5 linked regions of the Homo sapiens genome follow. The protein of the gene in region 5 interacts with the protein of the main gene of each other region in a pairwise test. Each region holds a gene or a part of one and is shown on either strand. Other genes may lie near its edges. The genes, in order: NFAT5, KATNIP, ZMIZ1, NAV1 and TBC1D4.

Region 1 (3,523 bases), on a different chromosome or scaffold from region 5:
TTCATGAACCATAAAATTACTGTGTTCTGATTACCCTTAATTCACCTAAGCATATCAATAGCCGATTATTCTACTTCCTTGTTTGACTATCTTTGCTTGTCGTACTTTTAAAAAATATATCTCAAGGAAAATGAGACATCATGTTATGGAGAATTGTAGTCCTGTACCTGTTTTCTAAATGATAATAATATAGAGTGGAAAGCTGGTCCTGCATATATTTTTAGAGCAATAGTGATTTTTGATGTATGTTACAAACTTGTTTAATGTTTATATATTCATAATATTTGGGGATTTTTATTTTTTAGACTACAAAGTCTGTTGGATCAACTCAGCAAACATTAGAAAACATCTCAAACATAGCAGGAAATGGCTCTTTTTCATCACCATCATCTTCCCACCTACCTTCTGAAAATGAAAAACAGCAGCAGATTCAGCCCAAGGCATACAACCCAGAGACCCTGACAACTATTCAAACCCAGGACATCTCACAGCCTGGTACTTTTCCAGCAGTTTCTGCTTCTAGTCAGCTGCCCAACAGCGATGCACTATTGCAGCAGGCTACACAGTTTCAGACAAGAGAAACTCAGTCTAGAGAGATATTACAGTCAGATGGTACAGTGGTTAATTTGTCACAACTGACTGAGGCATCACAACAACAGCAGCAGTCACCACTACAAGAACAAGCACAGACTTTACAGCAGCAGATTTCATCAAATATTTTTCCATCACCAAATAGTGTGAGTCAGCTTCAGAATACTATTCAGCAGCTGCAAGCAGGGAGTTTCACAGGCAGTACTGCTAGTGGCAGCAGTGGAAGTGTTGACTTGGTCCAACAAGTTTTAGAGGCACAGCAGCAGTTATCTTCAGTTTTATTTTCTGCTCCAGATGGTAATGAGAATGTTCAAGAGCAGCTTAGTGCAGATATTTTTCAACAAGTCAGTCAAATTCAGAGTGGTGTAAGCCCTGGAATGTTTTCCTCAACAGAGCCAACAGTCCATACCAGACCAGATAATTTATTACCTGGAAGAGCTGAAAGTGTTCATCCACAGTCTGAAAACACGTTATCTAATCAACAGCAGCAGCAGCAGCAGCAACAGCAAGTGATGGAATCTTCAGCCGCAATGGTGATGGAGATGCAACAGAGTATCTGCCAGGCAGCTGCCCAGATTCAGTCAGAGTTATTCCCTTCAACTGCTTCAGCAAATGGAAACCTTCAGCAATCGCCAGTTTACCAGCAGACTTCTCACATGATGAGTGCATTGTCTACCAATGAGGATATGCAAATGCAGTGTGAATTGTTTTCTTCTCCTCCTGCAGTTTCTGGAAATGAAACTTCTACAACTACCACACAGCAGGTTGCAACCCCTGGCACTACCATGTTTCAGACATCAAGTTCAGGAGATGGAGAAGAAACTGGAACACAAGCAAAACAGATTCAGAACAGTGTCTTTCAGACCATGGTCCAAATGCAACATAGTGGGGACAATCAACCTCAAGTTAACCTTTTTTCATCCACAAAAAGTATGATGAGTGTTCAGAATAGTGGTACCCAACAACAAGGTAATGGTTTATTCCAGCAAGGGAATGAGATGATGTCACTTCAATCTGGAAATTTTTTGCAGCAGTCTTCTCATTCACAGGCCCAACTTTTTCATCCTCAAAATCCTATTGCCGATGCTCAGAACCTTTCCCAGGAAACTCAAGGTTCTCTCTTTCATAGTCCAAATCCTATTGTCCACAGTCAGACTTCTACAACCTCCTCTGAACAAATGCAGCCTCCAATGTTTCACTCTCAAAGTACCATTGCTGTGTTACAGGGCTCTTCAGTTCCTCAAGACCAGCAGTCAACCAACATATTTCTTTCCCAGAGTCCCATGAATAATCTTCAGACTAACACAGTAGCCCAAGAAGCATTTTTTGCAGCACCGAACTCAATTTCTCCACTTCAGTCAACATCAAACAGTGAACAACAAGCTGCTTTCCAACAGCAAGCTCCAATATCACACATCCAGACTCCTATGCTTTCCCAAGAACAGGCACAACCCCCGCAGCAGGGTTTATTTCAGCCTCAGGTGGCCCTGGGCTCCCTTCCACCTAATCCAATGCCTCAAAGCCAACAAGGAACCATGTTCCAGTCACAGCACTCAATAGTTGCCATGCAGAGTAACTCTCCATCCCAGGAACAGCAGCAGCAGCAGCAACAGCAGCAGCAACAGCAGCAGCAACAACAACAGAGCATTTTATTCAGTAATCAGAATACCATGGCTACAATGGCGTCTCCAAAGCAACCACCACCAAACATGATATTCAACCCAAATCAAAATCCAATGGCTAATCAGGAGCAACAGAACCAGTCAATTTTTCACCAACAAAGTAACATGGCCCCAATGAATCAAGAGCAACAGCCCATGCAATTTCAGAGTCAGTCCACAGTTTCCTCACTTCAGAACCCAGGTCCTACCCAGTCGGAATCATCACAGACCCCCTTGTTCCATAGCTCTCCTCAGATTCAGTTGGTACAAGGGTCACCTAGTTCTCAAGAGCAGCAAGTAACTCTCTTCTTATCTCCAGCATCCATGTCTGCCTTGCAGACCAGTATAAATCAACAAGATATGCAACAGTCTCCTCTTTATTCCCCTCAGAACAACATGCCTGGAATTCAAGGAGCCACATCTTCGCCTCAACCACAGGCTACTTTATTTCACAACACAGCAGGAGGCACAATGAACCAACTGCAGAATTCTCCTGGCTCATCTCAGCAGACATCAGGAATGTTCTTATTTGGCATTCAAAATAGTAAGAAACTCTAATTTTTCATTACTTAATTGGTCATTATTATTATTAGAAGGAAGCAGAGTGCAGTGGTGCGATCTCAGCTCACTGCACCTGCACCCTCTGCCTCCCAGGTTCAGGTGATTCTCCTGCCTCAGCCTCCCAAGCAGCTGGGATTACAGGTGTGCACAACCACGCCCAGCTAATTTTTGTATTTTTGTTAGAGGCGGGGTTTCACCATGTTGGCCAGGCTGGTGTTGAATTTTTGACCTCAAGTGATCCGCTGGCCTCGGCCTCCCAAAGTGCTGGGATTACAGGCGTGAGCCACCACACCTGTCCTGTATAGTTGTTTTAAGAGTACAGATTGTAGTTAGAACTCTATCACCTATAGACTATAAGATCTTGTACAAGTTATTTGGCTTTTATGGGTCTCAATTCTCTCATTTAAAATGGTGATAATATTACATACTTTACATGGATTTGGGGAGGATTAAATATGGCAATGTATAAAAATGTGTGTTTGCCATTTTAAGCTATAAACTTAAAAGGAAAATGAAGTCAGAATGACAGATAATACCTTACCCAGTTGAAGTAAGTAGTTTCTAAGGAGGTAGAAACTCATCTTTAATGTTTATATACCAAGGAATTTATATAGGACTTTTGATATTTAAGCAAAGTTGTATTTTTAGACTGCTTAAAGGAAACCTAAGATGAATTCCAGTGCCAGTCTGTGAAAACCTTTTTCTTGGAC
Region 2 (3,523 bases), on a different chromosome or scaffold from region 5:
TAAATTCCAAAGCTCTCCACATGACATACAGTAACCTTCACAAATGGTCCCCACCTCGCTCTCCTCTCTCACTGCCAGCCTAAATGCCCCTATGTCACGCAGGTTCAACTCTCTTCCTTCCATGCTTAAGATAAAATCACATCTCCTGCTACTGTTTCACTTGTGTCATCCTCTTTACAGCAAAACTCTTTTTCCAGCTTTATCGGGGAATAGAATACACACCCCATACAATAAACTGTGCATATTTAACGGGTACAGCTTGATCAGTTTTAACATGTGTCTACGCCAATGAAGCCATCACACTCAAGAGAACAAACGTACCTATCACCCTAAGGTTTCCTCGTGCCCCTTGGTAACCCCTGTCTCCCCTTCCTCCTTCCCTGGCTCCAGGCAACCACCCACTTATGGTCCCTCCCTATATACTGATCGTCCTTTCTGGAATGTTTACATAAAGGAATCATGTTGCATGTAGTCTTTTTTGCTCGGCTCTTTCAGTCACCATAACTGCTCTGAGATTCACCTGTGTTATGGGAACTGATAGTTCCTTTCCTTTCTACTGCTAAGGAATATTCCATTGCAGGGCCCCCCGCATGATCTGTCCGTCACCCCGTCAGTGAATCTCTGAGTGTCACTGTCCCCGTGGGCTCCTCCTCCCACTACCCCTTGTTCCTCCTCCCGTTGGGCTTCTGCCTCCACCTCCACATGGAACCCACCTGGCCCGGGCACCTGTAACTAGGGTGACGGGCCATCCTAGTTTGTCTGGGACAATTCTGATTTATATCTGTTATCCTGGTGTCATTACTAATGACTCTCAGAAGTGTCTGGTTCCTAAAGTAAATTACAGGGTCCAGCTGACTGCCATACGCAATAGGAATTTCTCCTAGGAGTGGGTGGGTGTGGCGGCTCGGCAGTACTCGGCAGCTTCCCCTCCTTTGCGATGACTTTCCTCCCTGGGGCTTGTGTGGCTCTGCACCCACCTGGCTTTCCTCCTGCCTCGCTGGCTGAGCCTGCCCGACTCCTGGGTTGCTTCCTTTTCTTCGGCTGCACTTTGAACGACTAGGCTGCCCAGGGCTCAGTCCTAGGCCTCCCGAGTGCTCTTCCCTTGCTCTCCAGGTGGTCTCATTCAGGTCCCAGGCTCCCAGTTATTTTCATCTCCAACCCTGACCTCTCCACCAAGCCCCAAGTGACTGCTTGGCCTCTCTTCCTGGATATCTAACAGGAATTCCAATATAAAATGCCCAAAACAGAATGCTCTCTTTTTTTTTTAAGAGACAAGGTCTTGCTCTGTTGCCCAGGCTGGCGTTACAGTGGCTCGATCAGGGTTCACTGCAACCTGAATTTCTGGGCTCAAGTGACCCTCCCATCTCAGCATCCTGGATAGCTGGGACTACAGGTACACGTCACCACGACCAGCTAATTAAAATAAATTTTTTTTTGTAGAGACGGGGTCTCACTATGTTGTCCAGGCTGGTCTTGAGCCCCTGGGCTCAAGGGATCCTCCTGCCTTGGCCTCCCAAAGTGCTGGGATTACAGGTGTGAGTCAATGTGCCTGGTGTGCCTGAAACAGAATTCTGAAATCACTTTCTCCACACTTAGTCTTAAACTATCTTAAAAATGGGTCCATCATTCGAGCGGTTGCTAAAAAGCTTGCCGTCCCCTCGTCCCCTCTCACTTTCTCACTCATATCCAGTATGTGGGCACGTCCCTCGGCTCTCTCTCCAGAACACGCCCTGGAGCTGACCTCCTTGCCCGCGTGTGCTGCTGCCTGGGCCACCAGGGTCTCCCCCAGAGACACCACCATCGCCTCCTAGTTGGTCTCTCTGCCTCCACTCTGGGCTGTCTCCCCCAAACCCTGCACTCACTTCATTTTCCACACAGCAGTGAGTCTTTTTTTAACAACTGAAATCAGATCATGGGAGCCTCCTGCTTAAAGCTGCCCAGTGACTTCCTATGGCACTGACAAGAAATCCTACTCCCCTTCAGGGGTGCCTGCTGACCTCTCTGACTCCGGCTCCTGGCGCTTGCCTCGATTCCTTGATGTGGCTCAGCCTGTTCCTCCTGCCTTAGAGCCTGTGCACTTGCCTGGCGTGTTCTGCCGCAGATGCCCACAGCCTTGCTCCTTCTTCTGTTCAGGACCTTCAGTGAACACACCTCTAGGGCAGCCCCACCTCATCGGTCCCCTCTTTATCTTATTGCCCTGTTTTATTTCCTTTTAGTCTCTGAATGGTCTTGCTTATCAGCTTTTAACTTATTTATTGTTTTTCCCACTCAAAGTTAGGCTCCAAGACAGCTGAAGCCCTGCCCGTCTTGTCCAAGGGCACATTGTAGCCACCCAACAATTATTTTTGGGCCAGGCGCAGTGGCTCATGCTTGTAATCCCAACACTTTGGTAGGCCGAGGTGGATGGATCACCTGAGGTCAGGAGTTCGAGACCAGTCTGGCCAACATGATGAAACCCCGTCTCTACTAAAAATACAAAAATTAGCCAGGCATGATGGCGTGAGCCTGTAATCCCAGCTACTCGGGAGGCTGAGGCAGGAGAATCACTTGAACCTGGGAGGGGGAGGTTGCAGTGAGCTGAGATCGTGCCATTGTACTCCAGCCTGGGTGACGACAGTGAAGCTCCGTCTCAAAATAAATAAATAAATTACTTTGGAATAGCAAATGAATAAACATGGGTTTTCTCTCCTGAACAGCACTGCTGTCTCAACAGTGCTCTAAGAATGAACCTGATCAGAAAAGCGGCGGCCTGTGGGTTTCACCTCCAGATCGTTTATTTCCCGTGTTGCCTTGGCTTCTGATCTGCTCTTGGGAGACAGAATCTGAGACCCTGGAGATGTTCACCTATACTAACCCCTTCTTAGCCTTCCTGAAAGCTAGGTGAGTAGGAGCTAACAAATTTCAGGATCACTGAGTTACAGAGGTTTCCGCAGCAATTTAGAAGGAGAACTGTCCGGCCTGCGTTACGCCACAGGAACTCGGCTTCAATCCTCCAATTGCAGATGGCAGGCTACCATTTGCCGACTGTCAGAAAAGTCGATTCTCAAAGCACTCTTTTACCTGCTTATATGGATGGATTCTCTGTTTAGCAGAGGCACAGAGCAAGTGCGTGCTGTGAATTCACCGGGGAACAGCTATTTGAGAAGGACAGCATGGGCAGTTTTCAATGACTGGTTCTGCAAAATTACTGCCACAGGGATATCTGGTGAGACAGAAACACCTTCCTTTAAAGAGGTAGTGGGTGATGGGGAAACCATCTAGTCCAGCACAGTCACAAGGTGGGCATCCTAGCTTTCCTAATAGGGTGGCCGGCTTCCACAACATGGCCACCCATCTTCCTTCCCCAGTCCAGAGCCCATCTGACCTCCAGCCCTGTTCCCACCAAGACGTCTGGCGGAGAGGGAACTGAGAGAGGGAAGCAGGCGGAGGCAGGGGTCAGGCTTGTAAGAGAGGAGTGGGCTCAGGTGGAAATCAGTGGTATGCAGGGGTCACAGGGAGGTGGGAGGGTCGTACCCTGCCTGGC
Region 3 (3,523 bases), on a different chromosome or scaffold from region 5:
CAGATGGGATACACAGCTTCCCAGCCTAGGTCTGAGCCAGCCACCTTTTCCTCTGGGGTGAGTGACAGCTGCTCCCTGCCCTTGGGCCACGACACCTTGACTGCTCATCTACCTGTGCACCTGCAGACTTCCCATGACAACCGCAGGACAGGGCCCAGTCAATGATGCTGAACACGTGAAGGTGTCAGAAGATGCTGCTACCCCCTGCCCAGGGCCCCACTCGGGCCCAAGGAAGCCATCCCAGGGGACCTCCTTCATCCCGCCTGGGCTGGCGCCCCTGCCCTGACACGCACCTCCACATCAGCGTCTGGTGGACCGTGGGCCGCAGGTGGAACACATGGTTGCTGACCGCCAGGTTGTGCTCCAGGCGGAAGGGCTCCAGCACCACGCCATCCCGCACAGGGAATGTGAGCCGCAGCTCGTCATTGTGGTTGGCTGGGGCGAGGAGAGGAGGTGGGTGAGCCACAAGCCTCAGCTGCCATGGGTTCTGGGGCTGTAGGTGGGACTTGCTCACCCTGGGCTGCATGCTCAGAGGAAGGCAGGGGTGTGTAAACAGGGCCAGAGACATAGCCAGTCCAAGGGCACACCAGTGAGTCATGGCTTCTTCGATTCTACACGGCCCCGCCCCAGCGACTCATCCCCTCTTCTTCCACCCGCCTCCTTGCATCCTTCCATGGCTGCGTATAGATTTTCCTCCCAGCCTCCAGGCGCCCAGGCAGCAGTAAGAAAGGCTGTCTGTGAGCTGCCTACCCCGCCTTGAGTGTGCCCCTGGGTATCTCACCTGCTCTCAACTCTCTGCCCCTTCTGATGCCCACTCCCCAGGCAGCCTGACTGCGAAGCCCCTGCTCCCGGCCCACTGGGGGGCCCAGGTGGAGCTGCCAAGAGAGGGAGGGAGGGCCCTCACCTGGGGGTGGTGGCAGAGCGCTCATATTTGGCTTGATGTCAGGCGGGAAGGGTGGTTTGACGTCTTGGCTGGGGGACAGGTATGGAGGGATGCTGCTCCCAGGGGTCATGGGGGGTGTGGGGTTCCCTGGAACAGGTGAGTGGGGGTAATTTGCCACAGGAACCGGCCTGGGAGGCTGGAGGGAAAGAAAAGACACGCACGAGTTATGGGATTACGGAGACAGAAGGGGCCATGGCTATGGACATACACCGCACTCATCCCAGGGGCCTGGAGCCATGCCCCTCGGGAGGAGAGCCTCCTCCAGGGAAACTCTTCTCTCTCGCAGATCTCTGTCCTGCTCAGAAGACAGCCCTGGGAAGGGCCTCCCCACCCTTCATCTGGGTCTCACCACTGAGCTCCTGTGTCAGGTGCCTGTGGAGACCCTTACCCATCCCTGTGATAAATGGGGACACAGAGGCTCAGGGTTGGGGACTTGCTCAGCACAACCCTTGGAGGACAGGACAGCGGGAATGAAGCCCAGGCCTCCTGTCACCCGAGCAGGTGGGCTTCCCACATCACGACTCAAGGCCACACCCTCTATGCCTACCCCATCAGGGTCCCCAGGTGGAGTCGGGGCCTGCAGAATCTGGGGCCCAGGTTCCCCAGGAACCCCTCTCCCTCTCCTTGTTTTCAAGACTAGCCAGGCTGACACTTTACCCTGGGGCTCACCCCACCTGGAGCCGTGGATTCTCAGTCCTGAGCATCTCTGTCCCCAGGACAGGGGACCAGGGAGTGCACCCCCACCCATGGGCCCCTTTGAATGTCCAGAGAGGCTGGAGCAGGAACAGTGAGAACCTTTAGAGGCAACAACTCCCTGTGGCTTAGAATTTGTAAATTAAATTGGAACATACCCTGTTGACATTCCCTTGGCTGTAGTTACTGTAGCTGCTTCCCGAGAACGTGTTATTTTGTCCATTAAACTGTTCTGGCTATTAAAACAAGATAAACAACACTGAGTGGGGGGCAGAAAAGCCATCAGAAGCCCGCTCTCCCTCTGGACAGTAAAATCTACCAGGAGCACGGGGATGCTACAGGGGCCCATCCACTGCTGGGTATATTGAGTGAGCAGGGCGGGACAGCTACACCTCAGGGACGGCATTTTGCCTCTCTCTGTCCCTAGCTATTAATTTAGCAGAAGTTACAAAAATAGCAACACCTAGTATGCTGAAGTTGGAGCAAAAACGGTAAACCTGTTTGGTAGATGGCCATAATAAATTAGCATGATTTTTGGCAAATAAATGTAAAATAATAAAGTGTCTTCTTTACTCCCAAGAAAATAATCCTAAGGAAAGGAAAGGCTATATGCCTGAAGATACTCATCATAGTGTTATTTCTAAAGTGAAAAATCAGAAGCAACCCAAATACCTAACAGAAGGAATAATAAAATATGATATGGTGATCTCAGCAGAATATTAGGCAGCCATTAAAAGTAAAAACCCCAGGGGCTCTAGTAGCAGTAAGTATCATCCTTATTATGTCATGTTAAGTAAAAGGTACAGATTCAAAGTTACAGCTGTAATAACAATTTTATAACATGTTAGTGCCCACCTGCACATACAAAGTTTAGAATGAAATGTTAATATATACAGGGGATGTGTGTTTTTTTAATAAAATATATTTCCTTTATTATTTTGTGAGTGCCGTGAATAAGAAAAGGAGAAAAAAAAACCATCATCCGAGACGAATGAGAATAGGAACTGAGAAAAGCCACTCTGACATTCTGGCCACCGAACTTCGCCCTGAACACATGGGGACGTTCAGAAATCACCCACCCCTCGCTGTCCTTGGGGCAAACACACGCAGGGTCAGAGTGATCCCGGTGGAGTTAGGGGAGTGAGGTGGTTAGGAGGGAAGGGGCCCCGTGGGTGGTGGCGAGGCTGGGACTCACCTTGTAATACTGCCCCATGTTGACCGTGGGGGGCGGGTACTGCCCGGAGCTCGGCTGGCTGGGCATCCTCTGTCCTGGGTAGTTGGGGGAGGTGAGTGGCCTCGGGGGGTTGGGGGCTGGGTACTGGCCTGGCTGGGTGGGGAACTGGCTGTTTGGTCCATATTGCTGGTTTCCATAGTTGGGCTGTGGTGGGAGAGAAAGGAGAGGGGAAACACGTTCAATGTTGCCAACGTCACATAGCCAGGTCACCTGAACAACGGGATGGGGCCCGCCTCTCCTCATTTGCTCCTGCTGTTTCCCACCCACAAAACCAGATAATGCTTTGGGCCCCTTCTCGTCCTGACATCCAGGGGCATTTTGTTCTGCCTGTCCAGATCATAGGCCACCTCCCCTTGAGGCCGTTCTTCCTGGAGCACATGTGCCCCTGAACTCCAGGGACACTTTCAGAGCCTCTTGCTCACACCATTATGAGGGGCCTGATTCTAACTCCCCCGACCTTTGTGTCTCTCCTGGTGCCTGGGTTAGGGCTGTGCTCCCCAATGTGTACCCCAATGTGACAGAGGAACACAGTCAACAGGATGCAATTCCAGAAAGGAGCCCCCTGTGCCCCTGCATTCCAAGGCTGAACTTGGGTGGCATTGTCCTCGTACTCCCCTCAGAGCAGAACACACACCTAGTGTTCAGTTCTGGGC
Region 4 (3,523 bases), on a different chromosome or scaffold from region 5:
TTGTATAATTAGATTGATCCAAAAATTACCTTGCCTTTATAAAATACCTTTCTGTTAAGAAGATACAACGTTTTCTCTTGCCAGATAAAGGCAGAGTCTCTTCCTTTTGTAAAAGAACATCACCAAATTACAAGGAAGTTTAAGTCACACTTTGAGTTGCTGACAAACCTAGGACAAACCCCCAGGTTTTCTCCTTTTGGCTAGCCTATATACTGGTGCAGAGCCATTCTTGCATCAATGTGAAACATTTATTTTTTGCCTGGGCTTCTGTTTTAACGATTGACCTTCATCTCTCCTGTCCTGTAGCTGGGATGAAAGCAGCTCCATCAGTAGTGGACTCAGCGATGCCTCAGACAATCTCAGTTCAGAAGAATTCAATGCCAGCTCCTCACTCAACTCCCTCCCAAGTACTCCCACTGCTTCTCGCAGGAACTCAACAATAGTGGTACGTGAGTTTGCAAACACCCAAGCTGCCATCTCAAGATGAACCACAGGGCAAATGGCATTATCTGTGTATGGGGTTGCACGTACACACCCACTCCATGGGATTGGTTCTCATAGGCCTTTGGCCAGGTCATTTTAGAGTTGCCCCCACCCCCTCCCAAAAAAAGCTAAGGCTACTCACCCAAGACATTAGATGTTGTCATATTGTGTATACTTAGTGCCTACACCAATCTAGAGTGATACATGTAAGAGCTATTCCAACTGGAGAAAAAGAAACCCCGAGATATATGTCATCTGCTGTTGGAAACCCTAGGGGTATAGGTAGAAACCCTCAGTTTGACTTAATACTCTGAGATGAGCAGCGCCAGGTACTAACTAAAATCAATCCTGTCAGCTATCCAGTCTCCCATCTGCATAGAAGTATCTCACTCTGCCTTTTTCTCTTTTCTTTAGCTACGCACAGACTCAGAGAAGCGCTCACTGGCAGAAAGTGGGCTGAGCTGGTTTAGTGAATCAGAGGAGAAAGCCCCTAAAAAACTGGAGTACGACAGTGGTAGCCTGAAGATGGAACCTGGGACTTCTAAGTGGCGGAGGGAGCGGCCTGAGAGCTGTGATGATTCATCCAAGGGTGGAGAACTGAAAAAGCCCATCAGCCTGGGCCACCCTGGTTCCCTGAAGAAGGGCAAGACCCCACCTGTGGCTGTAACTTCCCCCATCACTCACACAGCCCAGAGTGCCCTCAAAGTCGCAGGTGAGCCTGGAATAAAGGAAGGTACAAGGGCAAAGACCTAGTTCTTTGGTTGCTCCTCTTCTTAGTGGTCATTAACCCATAGGATGATAGCAAACATTTGCATAGTGCTTTAACAGACATTATCTTATCTGGTCTAAGGACAGTCCCGTGAGTTAGGAAAGATGGGTGTTATTATTTCCATTTTACAAATGTGGAGGAAATAGAAACTCAAAGAGATTAAGTGGCTGGGCCAAAATCCCAGTTAATATGAGGTACAGGAGGAAGTATATTATGTTTAGAGACTAGTTTGGCCTCCTTCCAAACACTTCCAATGCTTGCTTTCTTCTTTCTCCCAAGTTAGTCACTCAAGGCACTTATTTTCATAGGATACAGCTTGACATCTCAGGAAGATCCTAAGAAAACAATAAATAAAATGGCTACAGCAAGAGAATTATAGTGCCCCCAAAGTTGGCCCCTTGGGTAACTTTTAGCCTTAATCAACATTTTCCTGTAGTCTCTAATTACTAAGAGATATTGTCATACTCTATTCCATTTGCTTCCCCACCTTTTTTTTCCCTTCCACAACTAGTTGTTAGATGGATATTCTTGATCATCTTTGTGTTTGCCTCTGCCTTTTTAATCAAAATGGACCATTCTACTCTGGGAGCAAAACAAAAAAAATTCCTAGCCTCCCCACCCCTCCCAGCCAGAGTCTTTCAGACAAGAAACTTTATCAGCTTATCTTGTACCTGTTTACCCAAATTTAGGCCTCTAAAAGTCTACAATACATGGACAATGTTCCCTTCTCCCATGGAGGGAAAGAAAAGGGTGGGTTTTTAAGATACTGGTCAGTTTCAGCTCTTTTCTCATTTCCCGTCCTCTTGCAGGCAAACCTGAGGGCAAAGCTACAGACAAGGGTAAGCTTGCAGTGAAGAATACTGGGCTCCAACGCTCCTCCTCTGATGCTGGTCGGGACCGCCTGAGTGATGCTAAGAAGCCCCCCTCGGGCATTGCTCGCCCCTCCACTTCGGGATCCTTTGGCTACAAGAAGCCTCCTCCTGCCACAGGCACAGCCACTGTCATGCAAACTGGTGGTTCAGCCACTCTCAGCAAGATCCAGAAGTCCTCAGGCATCCCTGTCAAGCCAGTAAATGGGCGCAAGACTAGCTTAGATGTTTCCAACAGTGCAGAGCCAGGATTCCTGGCTCCTGGAGCCCGTTCTAACATCCAGTACCGCAGCCTGCCCCGGCCAGCCAAGTCAAGTTCTATGAGCGTGACCGGCGGGCGGGGTGGACCTCGCCCTGTGAGCAGCAGCATTGACCCCAGTCTCCTCAGCACCAAGCAGGGAGGCCTTACGCCTTCCAGACTGAAGGAGCCTACCAAGGTAGCCAGTGGGCGGACCACTCCAGCCCCTGTCAATCAGACAGATCGGGAAAAGGAGAAGGCCAAAGCCAAGGCAGTGGCCTTGGACTCAGACAACATCTCCTTGAAGAGTATTGGCTCCCCAGAAAGTACTCCCAAGAACCAAGCAAGCCACCCCACAGCCACCAAGCTGGCAGAGCTGCCACCAACCCCTCTCAGGTACCCAATGTGGGCAGCCGCCTCCTTGTCTGTTTGCTTTGTCATTCTTTCGCATATCTCTGCCCTCCTTGGACTAGATGAGGCATGGCCTATCCACCGTTGTCTCTAGGCCTTTGCATGGCTCTTTCCCACCTCTCCCCCATATGCCAAGGTTCTGAAAGAATCTAGTTTCTGACAGTTCTGAAAGACTGAATCCCTCTTTCAAAACTTACCTCATTTGTACTATTCTCTGATCAATGCTTACCCTGTCTTCAGCACTTGTATGGGTGTTTTTACTGTTTATTTACACATATATACCTATTTGCATAAATTCACTTGTATCTCCCATGTGCATATGCTGGCCCCTTATCTAAGCTGAATGTGCCCCAAGTTGGGTATCAGATTTCCTTGCATTGTATTTCACAACAGCATTAGGATAAGCCTCTGTGCTTAGCAAATAGGCAGAAAACAAGACTGGATAGGATTTCTTTAAGGTCCTATCTGCCTCTCACTCTGTAATTCTATTATTCTAAATATTTCGTTTGATCTTCTCTCAGGGCCACAGCGAAGAGCTTTGTCAAACCACCCTCACTAGCCAATCTTGACAAGGTCAACTCCAACAGTCTGGATCTACCATCATCCAGTGATACCACCCATGCTTCAAAGGTCCCAGATCTGCATGCTACAAGCTCAGCATCTGGGGGCCCTCTCCCTTCCTGCTTCACCCCCAGTCCGGCACCCATCCTCAATATTAACTCAGCCAGCTTCTCCCAGGGCCTGGAGCTAATG
Region 5 (3,500 bases):
AATTATAGACATAAAATACTTCTTGGTACTTACAGTCCATATTAAATGAATGTATAAATCCGATTTACATGAATTTTTGTAATGTCAAATTGATGAATAATTTTTAAGTTGAAATATCATTGTATTTTTAAACTGATAGCTATTATCCTTTTATCTGTGGACCCAGATCAAACACTACTCACAGGTACTTCCCTGTATCTTTGAAATTCTAATAATAGCTACCAAACCGTTGTTTCTGAAAATCAGAATTATTGAATTCCTTACAAGACCATCTGATTCCTATCTGATATTAAGATACAGGTGACCAGGCACAGTGGGTCACGCCTGTAATCCCAGCACTTTGGGAGGTCAAGGCAGGTGGATCACCTGAGGTCCGGAAGTTTGAGACCAGCCTGCCCAACACAGTGAAACCCCAACTCTACTAAAAATACAAAAAATTTAGCAGGGTATGGTAGTGCATGCCTGTAATCCCAGCTACTCGGGAGGCTGAGGCAGGAGAATCACTTGAACCCAGGAGGTGGAGGTTGCAGTGAGCCAAGATCGCGCCACTGCACTCCTGCCTGGGTGACAGAGCAAGACTCCGTCTCCAAAAAAAAAAAAAACGATAAAAAGATAAAAAGATACAGGTAAACTCTTTAGGAATAAAAAATAAAACTTTCCACAGTTGTTATTTGACTTGTTAAACCTACGAATAGTCATCAATGAGGAATCAAATCATATGAACTCACACCAGAAAACCTAATGTTGATAGCAAAGCCCTATCTCCCCAGTCAAAATTTTACCTTCAGAAAGTAAAGAAAAATGGAATACTTCATCTCCATTCATACTCTCAAAAAATATCATTTACTATAACGCTCAGACTAAAAATACAATTCTTTTGTTATACATTGGCAACTGAGATATTAAAGGCAAAAAACTCATCTCTGGGAAACAGAAAAAAATAGTATATTTTAAAAGCATCTTTAAACTATTACTTCTTATCTAAAGCACAGTATTATGATGAACTGGGAGTCATGCATACCTCATTTCAAGGGAGGAAAAACCTGAGAATCCTCTTTAAAGTCTTCTTTTATATTTTTAACCACTGAAAGCTTTAAATTGCCAGGCAGTGGTTGTTTAAGTATCTATAGACAAAATTTAAACTGCTTATTAGCAACCAACCCACTTAGAGAAGTGAAAACTAGGAGAGAAATGTGCAAACAGGGAGTCTGAGGTAGGCTAAAGACAGCAGTGGCAGTTAATACCCCACTCAAAATACCTGGAAAATCTTAATGGTGCTTCTTCAGAGCCTGCTAAGAAAAGCAGACTCAGTGGCTCAAGCCTGTAATCCCAGCATTCTGGGAGGCTGAGGCGGGCGGATCACCTGAGGTCAGGAGTTCAACACCAGCCTGGCCAACATGGTGAAACCCCATCTCTACTAGAAATACAAAAAAATTAGCCAGGCATGGTGGCACCTGCCTGTAATCCCAGCTACTGGGGAGGCTGAGGCAGCAGAATGGCTTGAACCCGGGAGGCAGAGATTGCAGTGAGCCGAGATCGTGCCACTGCACTCCAGCCTGGGCAACAAAGCAAGATTCCATCACACACACACACACATACACACACACACACACAAAGCAGACTGAAAAGGCACCACTGGCTTTCACACTTTTTCCTCTGTAAAGGCCTATCTTACATGAAGATAAAGGAGGGGAGATATCAATGATAAGTTCAAAAAGAACCATAACATGGTATCTGCTATTTGTGTACTCAAAAGTAAAGGGATAAAGATACTTTCAGATTGTAAACAAAAGATCTGTGAGCCTTTTCAACTGAGAAGTTGAGAAAAAGTGAATAAAGATGATTTGATACCTTCTCCATGTAACCCATAGACTTAGGGCATAAAGGACTGGGTCCTCATCACCTACCTTTCTTAAATTACTTATTTACTTACTTCAGGAATTTTATGGAAAAGGTATTCTGCCTCTGGGTCTCATACACTTAGAAGTTTACCTAAATAGCAAATCCCACACTAAGTGAACTAAAACATGCCCCAATCTTTACCCAAGTTCTAAGACAATGGCTCTACATTTCTTTAAATCTGAACTGTAATAATTGAGAAGAGGGCCAGGATTTCTGGTAATAGTCTCACACCTTCCTCGGGAAGCACAAGTGCCTCACCTGCAGCGACATCATGTCAGGTCTGTACTGCTTGCGGAAGCCGAGGTCATACATGAGGAATTTCAGCATTTCAAAGGCTTGCTCTTCACTCATGTGCAGAAGCAGGACTCCAGCCACAAAGCTGATCCCCTGACAGTATCCCACTTCTTTGTCCAGCAAAGAATAGGCTTTCAGGAGGTTAAACAGTGACAGCTGTCCTGGCCCAAGCTGTACTGAAAAGTAAGGGTGAGTAGGAAACGTCCTTCCTGCAGAGGAAAAGAAGGAAAATATTTTTTGAAATGTCCTCATGCCTTGGAGACAACAGTGAAATTGCAATTCAGTGACCTCCAAGAATAAACAGACACTCTTTCCCAAACCAGTGAGAGTTGCTTAGAGTCACCATGTAACTAAGAGTCTCTCCCTCTCTCACCCCAAGTTCTGCCAGGCCACCATACCATCTTCACATATACGATATGGGAGGAAACATTTTATGCTAACCAGTACTTCTTTCCAGCAAAAAAAAAAAAAAAAAAAAAAAAATACAATAAAAATCCACAAACCAATGATGTACCCAGGAGAAATACCAGGAAAATGGAATATAAATTTTATTCTGACTATAAAGCAAGGCAAATTCTAATTCATATAAAGACTACCTTCTAAATGAAACCAGAAGTCTGTAAGACATATTATATTATTTAAAAGAAAATCTTCATAGTCTATAAACAGGTTTATTTCTGCTTTTCTTATGACACTGGAGGGACTTTTTGGGTTTGTTTGACTTTACATTCAGACTGTCATTCAGAAGAAAACTGCTTTTTCAACTATCGTTCGCTCTCTGCTCTTAAAATACCTCCATGAGCCATGTAAACCACTTTTCTTTTTCAATATCTAAAAATATCAAGGAAAATAAAGGGTCAAGTCAATTTCAAATAAATTCCCCTCTAAAATATACCTCTAGGTATAAAATTACCACAGAGACACTTGAGCTGGCAATGTGAGTCCTGCATCACTAAAAGGAGAGTTCTATACACAGAAACAAATCCGTCTTCACATCAAAGCTGTCTATATTGGTATGGGCATTTTTCTAGGGCCACAAAAATGAAGGGGGATGTTAGCTTCCTTGTGAAATGATTACTCATGTCATTTAGAACTTGCAAGAGTGCCAGGTTTTAAAATGTTTTCTCCCACATATGCTTAAAAGTGATTTTTTTTTCTAGGAACCAATAAGATTAATTCTGCAGAGCCAGTAAGAGGAAGATATGAGAAAATAACAATTGCATGCTGAAGAAACACAGATGGCTACAAGCAGAGCCAAATAAGCAATTTTTAAAATTATGGTTTTACTTTCTCACTTAAAATTT

What was found.
Region 1: the proteins of TBC1D4 (region 5) and NFAT5 interact in a two-hybrid assay, tested with the Homo sapiens proteins (one large-scale study listed by IntAct).
Region 2: the proteins of TBC1D4 (region 5) and KATNIP interact in a two-hybrid assay, tested with the Homo sapiens proteins (one large-scale study listed by IntAct).
Region 3: the proteins of TBC1D4 (region 5) and ZMIZ1 interact in a two-hybrid assay, tested with the Homo sapiens proteins (one large-scale study listed by IntAct).
Region 4: the proteins of TBC1D4 (region 5) and NAV1 interact in a two-hybrid assay, tested with the Homo sapiens proteins (one large-scale study listed by IntAct).

The regions. Positions count from the first base shown.
Region 1 is NC_000016.10:69,691,444-69,694,966, forward strand, and holds part of NFAT5 (nuclear factor of activated T-cells 5), read left to right. Parts: intron 1-305; coding exon 306-2,796; intron 2,797-3,523. UniProt on the Homo sapiens protein: Transcription factor involved, among others, in the transcriptional regulation of osmoprotective and inflammatory genes. Binds the DNA consensus sequence 5'-[ACT][AG]TGGAAA[CAT]A[TA][ATC][CA][ATG][GT][GAC][CG][CT]-3'.
Region 2 is NC_000016.10:27,735,128-27,738,650, reverse strand, and holds part of KATNIP (katanin-interacting protein), read right to left. Parts: intron 3,157-3,523; exon of another isoform or gene 3,061-3,156; intron 1-3,060. UniProt on the Homo sapiens protein: May influence the stability of microtubules (MT), possibly through interaction with the MT-severing katanin complex.
Region 3 is NC_000010.11:79,295,962-79,299,484, reverse strand, and holds part of ZMIZ1 (zinc finger MIZ domain-containing protein 1), read right to left. Parts: intron 3,015-3,523; coding exon 2,832-3,014; intron 1,873-2,831; coding exon 1,795-1,872; intron 1,080-1,794; coding exon 905-1,079; intron 436-904; coding exon 294-435; intron 1-293. UniProt on the Homo sapiens protein: Acts as a transcriptional coactivator. Increases ligand-dependent transcriptional activity of AR and promotes AR sumoylation. The stimulation of AR activity is dependent upon sumoylation.
Region 4 is NC_000001.11:201,780,115-201,783,637, forward strand, and holds part of NAV1 (neuron navigator 1), read left to right. Parts: intron 1-306; coding exon 307-445; intron 446-897; coding exon 898-1,195; intron 1,196-2,061; coding exon 2,062-2,755; intron 2,756-3,291; coding exon 3,292-3,523. UniProt on the Homo sapiens protein: May be involved in neuronal migration.
Region 5 is NC_000013.11:75,297,170-75,300,669, forward strand, and holds part of TBC1D4 (TBC1 domain family member 4), read right to left. Parts: intron 2,406-3,500; coding exon 2,161-2,405; intron 1-2,160.